Homo sapiens: one gene and its partner. The protein of the gene in region 1 purifies or fractionates together with the protein of each later gene. This does not show direct contact. Each region holds a gene or a part of one and is shown in the gene's direction. Other genes may lie near its edges.

What was found.
Region 2: the proteins of ELOVL5 (region 1) and RAMP3 purify together in Homo sapiens (co-immunoprecipitation; one large-scale study listed by IntAct). This does not show direct contact.

Annotation. Positions count from the first base shown.
Region 1 is NC_000006.12:53,279,352-53,283,165, reverse strand, and holds part of ELOVL5 (very long chain fatty acid elongase 5), read left to right. Parts: intron 1-3,814. UniProt on the Homo sapiens protein: Catalyzes the first and rate-limiting reaction of the four reactions that constitute the long-chain fatty acids elongation cycle.
Region 2 is NC_000007.14:45,178,238-45,182,051, forward strand, and holds part of RAMP3 (receptor activity-modifying protein 3 precursor), read left to right. Parts: intron 1-3,814. UniProt on the Homo sapiens protein: Accessory protein that interacts with and modulates the function of G-protein coupled receptors including calcitonin gene-related peptide type 1 receptor (CALCRL), calcitonin receptor (CALCR) and G-protein coupled estrogen receptor 1 (GPER1).

The DNA of each region.
Region 1 (3,814 bases):
TACCTGTGTTTATAGTGAGAGAGTTGGTTCTGCTTTTGTTCAGTTTGCCACGTTGCTAGAACCAGAAGTCAGTTTTTTTTCCTTTGAATTTGTTTTGAAAATTTGTGATGCTTTTTTATTGGAAAGATGAAAGAAGTTGAGCATTTGGTGACTGAATGCTTTGTTTGTGCTTTCTAACCTCTGTAATTGTGGGCTGTGAAAGCATCTCCCCAGGCTCTGGGTTTGAAGGCCATCTGATGGAACCACAGAGCAGTTGCTTTGGAAACATAATATTCTAAACTGGTTGTTTTTCTTTCCCTTCAGGCTTTCCTAAAATAGATACGTTATTGTGGGAAAATAGGATTTGGAAAAACACTTAAGCAACCTGGCAATTGATTATTGAATTTTATTTGAAAAATAACTTTGTTTACCAAAATACTTTGAAAAGGCTATTTGCTGTTCTTTTTCCCATTTAGCAGAGGTATAGAGCAGTTGAAACATCTGGTGAAATTAGTACTTACAAGAAATGCCTGATCATTGCCTAGAATACTTTTCACTCTTAGTTTCCTTACAACTAAAATTCCTTGCTGAGAAAGAAACTTCTCTCAGGGCCTGAAAGGAAACAGTTAGTTGTCCCTAGTGTATCTGACACTGCCCTGAGAGAATGCCTCACGGTAGGGAGAATGGAGAGAAGGATGCAGCTCAAACATCCTTCATTCCTCACCCACACCCAGGGGAGGGGAAGGGAATACTTTCTACAGAGAGGAAGCCTTCTGGCTTGTCCAGAGCCAGGCCTCACTCCTCTAAACTTGCCCCTGCAACACCTGGAGAGCTTGGCTCTGCAGCTGGTGTAGCTAGGAGCACATCACTCTACAGATCCTCAACTAAAGTGGACTTAACTCTGCAAAGCAGGCGTCAGTGGGTAGGCTGGAGACCTTCCTTTAAATGACACAAATTATACTTTGGCTGGGACATCCAGCACCACCTTAGCCCTAGTTGGAAGCAAAAGTACTTAACATTTGCCTAAGATCATAGCAAAGACAGATAGTGCCTACCTTATGTCAGGTATTGGGCTAACTAATCTAATGCTTATTGCACTCTTACCATCTGCTTTCTACAGAGGGAAAGTTCTGGGAGGCCTGAACAGGGAGAACTGCTAGCATAAGAGGGCAGGGCTTGAGGATTCAGGGAAAATGCCAGACATACCTGTTTCAGTTTGGATTGAGGACAGGCTGTTTCTTTGTGTTTTGTTTTAAAGACTTCTCAAGTGTACAGAACCTGTCTTTTTTAACTTAGCCAAGAGTGTTACGTTCAGCTATAACCCAGGGGTATTCCTGTTCACAAGGAGAAGGAAAAAAAAAAAACACCTGTGGAGGTCATGGGTGTGAAATTATCTTAATGGGCATCCTTATGCTCTGGACATGAAAGATTTGAAATGTAAAAACCACATGCTTTGACCTGGCACTCCCTAATAGCACTGCGAAAATTGGCCAACTAAACCCTAGAGGAAATAGGTACTTTCAATTTTGAGTAGTTCATGGTTAATTTTAAACCAAACATCTGCGGAAGAAAAAGATGCAGTTAAAGGTCTGCTTTTCCACAGAATTCTTCATGGACAGAGTATCCCTACCATGTTCTTACTAAGAATTCAAAAACAGATGAAGAAGGGCAAAGATGCTTGGAACTGCTGTTTGAGGTGCATTTGGACTGAGAGTCAGGATTCCTTTGTGCTAATCCCAGTGGTACCAAGACCTGGGCCATCCTTATCACTTCTCATTCCCTGTTTTCTCATTAAAAATACGAGCTTGTACCAGATCTAAAAAATACACAGTTGAGGACTCACACAGAAACAAAGCTATGAAGAGGGTCAACCCTACGTATTCTTGGAGATTTTGCTTAGAAAAGCACCTTAGGTCCTGTGATGTAGTTGAACTTGAGTATGGATAGTCTATTTTTCATTACTTTTTACCCCATTTCTGCATAGGAGGTAGTAAACATGCAGCTTCATCAAGCTCTTATCACCAGAAGCAGCCAGTCTTCTTTGGAAAGGGGTTATCTTGTTGCTCTGACATCTTGGGATGCTGATGTTAATGGCTGATAAGGGCCACCCAAGATGATGTTTTCCTCCTTTTTCTTTAAGTGTTTCCAGTGACCTTGTTTCCTGAGATGTTTCAGTAGCATTCCAGAAAGTGCCATGGAAATGGTTATTATGCTAAAGGTTACAAGTTGTTTGTGGTTAAATGTGTTATTAGATGGGAAAAGTCAACTCACCGTTAAAAATGATTCACTCCTGGCTGGGTGCAGGGGCTCACACCTGGAATCCCAGCACTTTGGGTGGCCAAGGCAAGCAGATCACTGGAGCTCAGGAGTTTAAGACCAGCCTGCGCAACATGGTGAAACCCCATCTTTACAACAAAAATATAAAAATTAGCCGGGCATGACAGCGTGCACCTGTAGTCTCAGCTACTTGGGAGGCTGAGGTAGGAGGATGGCTTGAGCCCAGGAAGTGGAGGTTGCAGTGAGCTGAGATTGTGCCACTGCACACCAGCCTGAGCAACACAGCCAGGCCCTGTCTCAAAGAAAAAAGATTCACTCCATGAATTATGTCATCCAGAACCAGGTGTGAAACTCACCTACATTTTTTTCTTTCATTGAAAAGGTGCATGAAACCATCAGGGTTATTGACTTTATCTCATATGGAGAAAAGAGCTTGTAGCTAGGTTTTAATTATAGCTCTGCACATCCTCTTGGCCTAATTAAAGTTTGCTTTACTCCAAGGAAGGAGGAAGTGTATAAAGCTTTGCAGTGGTACTGTTTGTATCTCAGTTCCTCAGAAAAAAGCCTGCAAATAATGCCCCTGGGTGGTTCTTGGAGTTGGCAGTGGTATGGAAAATTTCGTTAGGTAGTGGTTAGCTGTTTGTGATGGCCTGCTTTTTCATTATAGTATAGTCCTGTCCTCTTTCGATCTGATTCTCAGAAGCCCAAGGTAGACAGACACCTGCCCCTATTTTCAGTACTTCACCTTCTCCAGCCTACTGGGTCCTCTCACCCTGTGGTGTCTACTTAACACGCAACTTGAAGAATTTCTGGGAAATTGACCAAAACAGCTCTTTGGAAAGAAGCTAGGCCTCAGTCCCAAAGGGAAAGGTGGCTGATGTGACTTTGACTTGAGGATTGTCTCCTGTGATGTGCTCCTAGTGGGGCTACAGGGGTCAGTCCTTTGCTTTGAGCACCTCTGTAGTCCACTACCCATGGACACATTGCTATCCTCTGAGGGGGATGGAGGGAGTAGAGCCCTCTACTGCTAGCCCATTTTATGGAGGTTTGATGAGGGTCTTAGGTGAATAAGCTTCAACTCAGGTCCTTGGTCTTGGTTTGTTAAATTATTCTATCCTTTCTGAAGCCAGGGAGATTTGAGAATTTCCATGACCCCATTATGAAATTGATGATGAAGAGTTTTCATCTTGTGAACAGAGTTCAGATGAATATGATCACAAAGTCAAGCCTCGTTTAAAATACTATGAAGCTCTCTTTATTGCTGCACATGAAACATTAGGCCTAGATTTAGGGGAAAGAATTGGCAGTCTTGAACTCTTTGTCATTTGTTTAGCAAATATTTGTTTGACATCTCTGGTACGCTAATCCCTGTGCTGGAATATGTTGATGCAGATGCAGGAGCCACAGTCACCACCCTTCGAAATCTTACAGAAGAGCACACAACAGGCCCATTAACAAAGGGAGCATGTGAGCAAACAGCTACAGGTCACTGCAAGGTGAGGGTAGAGGAAGGAGAATAGACCTCAGGCTCTAGTGCTCAAGGGAGTAATCATGAAGA
Region 2 (3,814 bases), on another chromosome or scaffold:
CTCATAGTGAAGGGAGGTCCCCTTGTTCTAGAAGCTTCCCAAGCTTTTCATCTCCTTACCTCCTTGGAAATTGCTCATGGCCTCACAGTCCTCTGCCCCACCCCACTCCACCTCTGGCTTTGCAGTCTTGTGCCACCCCCTGGTGGCTGCTGCCAGACCCTAAATGTGCTGGCCTCATGCTTTTGCATGTTAGCACCCCAGCCCCTGTCTTCCGTAGAGACACTGACCATGGCCCTGCCCCAGGAAGCCTCCCCGGCCCTGGCCATTCTAGTGGCCCAGCAGATGGGGGCTTCTTGAGGCTGTCACATCTGCAGCCCCACTCTGTGGGGGAACTGCTTGCTGAACCAAGTGGAATGGAATTCTGAGTCTGCTGGGAAGGGGTGCTGGGATTCAGGAAGGGGTTTTGCAGGCTCCTCCTGGTCCTCAGTGAGCCTGGACACAGGCCTGGAATGGACCCACTGGTGGGGGTGGAGTCAGGGAAGAGGAGGTCATAGCTTCGTAGCTTCTGGTCTTGCTCCTCTCTGTAACCCGCTAAAGCCTTGGTAAAGAGACTAAATAGAGATGTCCAGCCGTGGATTGGGAGGACAGGAGTGGAGGCAACCCGATGGGCATTTAGGAGCCAGTGAGTGAGTGGGCAAGAGCCACTGACTGAGTGCCCTTGGTGAAGTCAGACCTGATGCTGGAAAAGGGGAGCTGGGAACAGCCAGGTTGACATTGCGGAGCCCTCCCACGACCCGGCCGGCAGCACCAGCTCCCAAGAGAGTGGCAAGAGTAGCTGAGAAGCAGTGAGGTGTCCAGAGCCCTCCTCCACCCCAGCTGGACACTGGAGGTGTATTCTTGGAGCTGGTGACACCAGGGTTTCTGGGCCTTCCCATGTAATTGAGAACGTGGCACAGTGTCCCAGAGAGGGAGGCTGGAGAGAGCGGCTGATACGCATTATCTTTTGCCACTGGGTCCAGGAGGGTGGTCTAGGGTAGGATTGGAGCTGTCCTTTCTGAGGAGTGAGACCAGCCAAGAGGAAGGACCTAGAAGCAGTGACCCCCCCAACCCCTGGAAGCTCTGGGGACAAGCTCTTCTGCAGGGTCCCAGTGTCTCATCAGCTCTCAGTCCCCACTCCCAGTCACGAGTCACTTCCAAGCAGGGTCCCTGGAAATCTGACCTAAGGCTCTGACCCTGAAGGACAGAGACCAGAGAGATGGAACCAAGCAAACCCGGGGGCCATGCACCAAGAAGAAAACTGCAAACGTCACGACTGATATCTTCAGAGGGCAACAACTATCTCTCATGTGATGAATGAGAACAAAGAAAGAGGTTTAGAAATGGAAGATGCAATAGAAGTGAAATGGAATAGAAAGGTTGGAAGGGAGATGTTGAGGAAATCTCCCAGGAATAGGAGAGAGAGACAGAGAAGATGATCAGGAGGTCAGTGGTCAGTCCAGGCGTAACACCAAGATAGTAGGAATTCTAGAAAGAGAACAGGAGAATGGAAGGATAAAGGGCCCTTGCCAGGGGCTGAGGGCATGAGCTTGCAGCCGGTGAGGGCTTGCCCGGTACTAGCACGAGGGAGGAAAATGTCCCACATGGACCCTGGAATATCAGAGCTGTGGAAACAAAGGAAAACTTCTACACCTATCCAGAAGGAGGAAAAAAATGAGCTCTAGGTTGGAGATGAGGGGATCAGAGGCCTTCAGGCTCCCCCACCGCAGCCCTGGAAACCGAGGACTGTGGGATGCAAGGACCTGAGAATTTCGGACTGTGATTTCTCAGCTAGTGTGCTATTTCCCGCCAATTTGTCCACTAATTAGGGAGAAACGAAAATACTGTCAGACGTGTGGCACCTCCAGCATCTGATTCCCACATACCTTTCTCAAGCTCTGGCGGCTGTGCGCCAAGGTGTGGAGCAAACCACGACAAAAGAAGCTATGAGATTTGGGGAGCGGAGCCAAGGCAGGAGAGGGAAGCCCCAGGGAGGGCGGTGCCCCAGCGTGGCAGTACACCCTGGGTGGAGGCAGCCTGGCCCAGGTGGAGGGCACTTGATGCTTACCTGACATGGTGACTGCCTGCCCATGCCCTGCAGCCCAGCTCAGTCAAGAATGAAGGACACTCCTTTCTTTCCCCTGAATGTTCATTCTGCTTTGGTCCCCACTGAAGCAGGGTGGGCCTTGGTGAGCTTAGAGGAGAGGTGGCTTGCTCCCCTCAATAGGACTGGTCCACATGACGACCCCATCAGGAGTCGAGTCATGGCTGGGAAGACCCTATTCCCCAAACTCGCCCATGGCCTGCCTGTGGCCTTCCCTGGGGAGGAGTCTCATTGCCCCTCGGGGCAACCAGAGCGTGTCCTCTCCTGGGAACCTCCCTCCAATAGCAGCAATGGGCTCCTTCTGTACCCAGTTAAGGAGCATTGCTATGGGATTTCCAAATGCAACACTATATTGCCTGGGAACACACTCAGGTGGTGAAACATAAAGGAAGGTGGGCAAACACCCCAGAGGTGGGTGGGGGGAGAGGGAGTCTGACTGGGGGGTTTGCCCGGCTTCCAGCCTGCTGGGCTCCTCTCCTTCCCATCCTGGGTTGTGGTGCATCTTTTTTAGGGAGAGTGCTCTGGGGAGCCTGACTGAAGGAGGAGTGGAGAGGCCCCAGATTATCCAGGGGATGAATAAATCATAAGTAGTTCCCGGTTTTCTAGAGAAGCACTGAATGTGGACCTCTCTAGATATGTGACAAAAATGCAGATTTTGTGGATCCACAGAGATGGGTGCTGTGCTCAGCTCTGCCCCAAACCTAACAGCTGGGGTGGGCTCACCCCATGACCTCCTCTGTGCCAGGCACTTGCTGGGGCACATGGACCTCAACTCATTTGGTTCTCTCAACCACCTGATAGGATAAGTGTTATTAAACCCACTTACAGATGAGGAAACTGAGGTCCAGGGAGGATAAATGACATGGCCCATACCACAAAGATGGTGAGTGGCTGAGCTGGAGTTGGAGAGGCCCTGCCATGTTGGCTCTGCAACCTGAGCCTGAAGCCACTGTCCATGCTGTCTTCTGGGATTACCTCTGCTCCGTGGGCTTCTCCATGTGGCCTAGCTTTGGCTGGGAGTGGGGTTTGGGAACAGCAGGGGCTTTCAGCCCTGCCTCACCTCCTCTTGGGACGGTTCTGGGGCTAGACATCACTCCTCTTGCCCTGTAGACTCGCTGTCCACAGAGGGTCTTCTCCAGGGTCTGTCTGGCTCATCTCAGCCCTGGGGATGGTTGTTGGGGGGTGGCATTCCTGGGTAGCAGTTCAGTGGAATGACTTTGGAGGCACAGAGGTTACCGCATGTGATTCTCATCACACACATAGATGCTGGGAACTTCTGAAGGTGAAGGCTGTTGCAGGGTGTTGTTAGACGGCTCCCCAGCTCCTGGATCAGCTGGCGGGGGGTTGGGGTGGACAGCAGGCTACTGAATCTGAGGCCCTGTGGGAGAAGCAGGTCAGGGAAGATGAGGGTTTGTCCATGGACCTAGCTGTTGAGGTGTCTCTAATGCCTGGGCATGTCTCAGGTGCTGCATTGTGGCTGAGGCCCAGGAGAGCCAACAGCTTTGTACTTGGATTCGAGGCTGTTTCTTTTGCTCTGGCTGTTCTCTGCTGACACTACCTGGAAAGGCACAGGTGTGTGTCTGACCTACATTCCAAGGTGCTGAGAGCCAGCCTTGGATCAGTCAGGAGCTGGGCTGAGTGACTGTACCTGGGCTTCCCAGACCCTTCCTGGGGCATGGGGTTGGGAGACCAGGAGAACCCTGGGTGGAGTAGGTCAGAGTCCCTGTTTCCTAC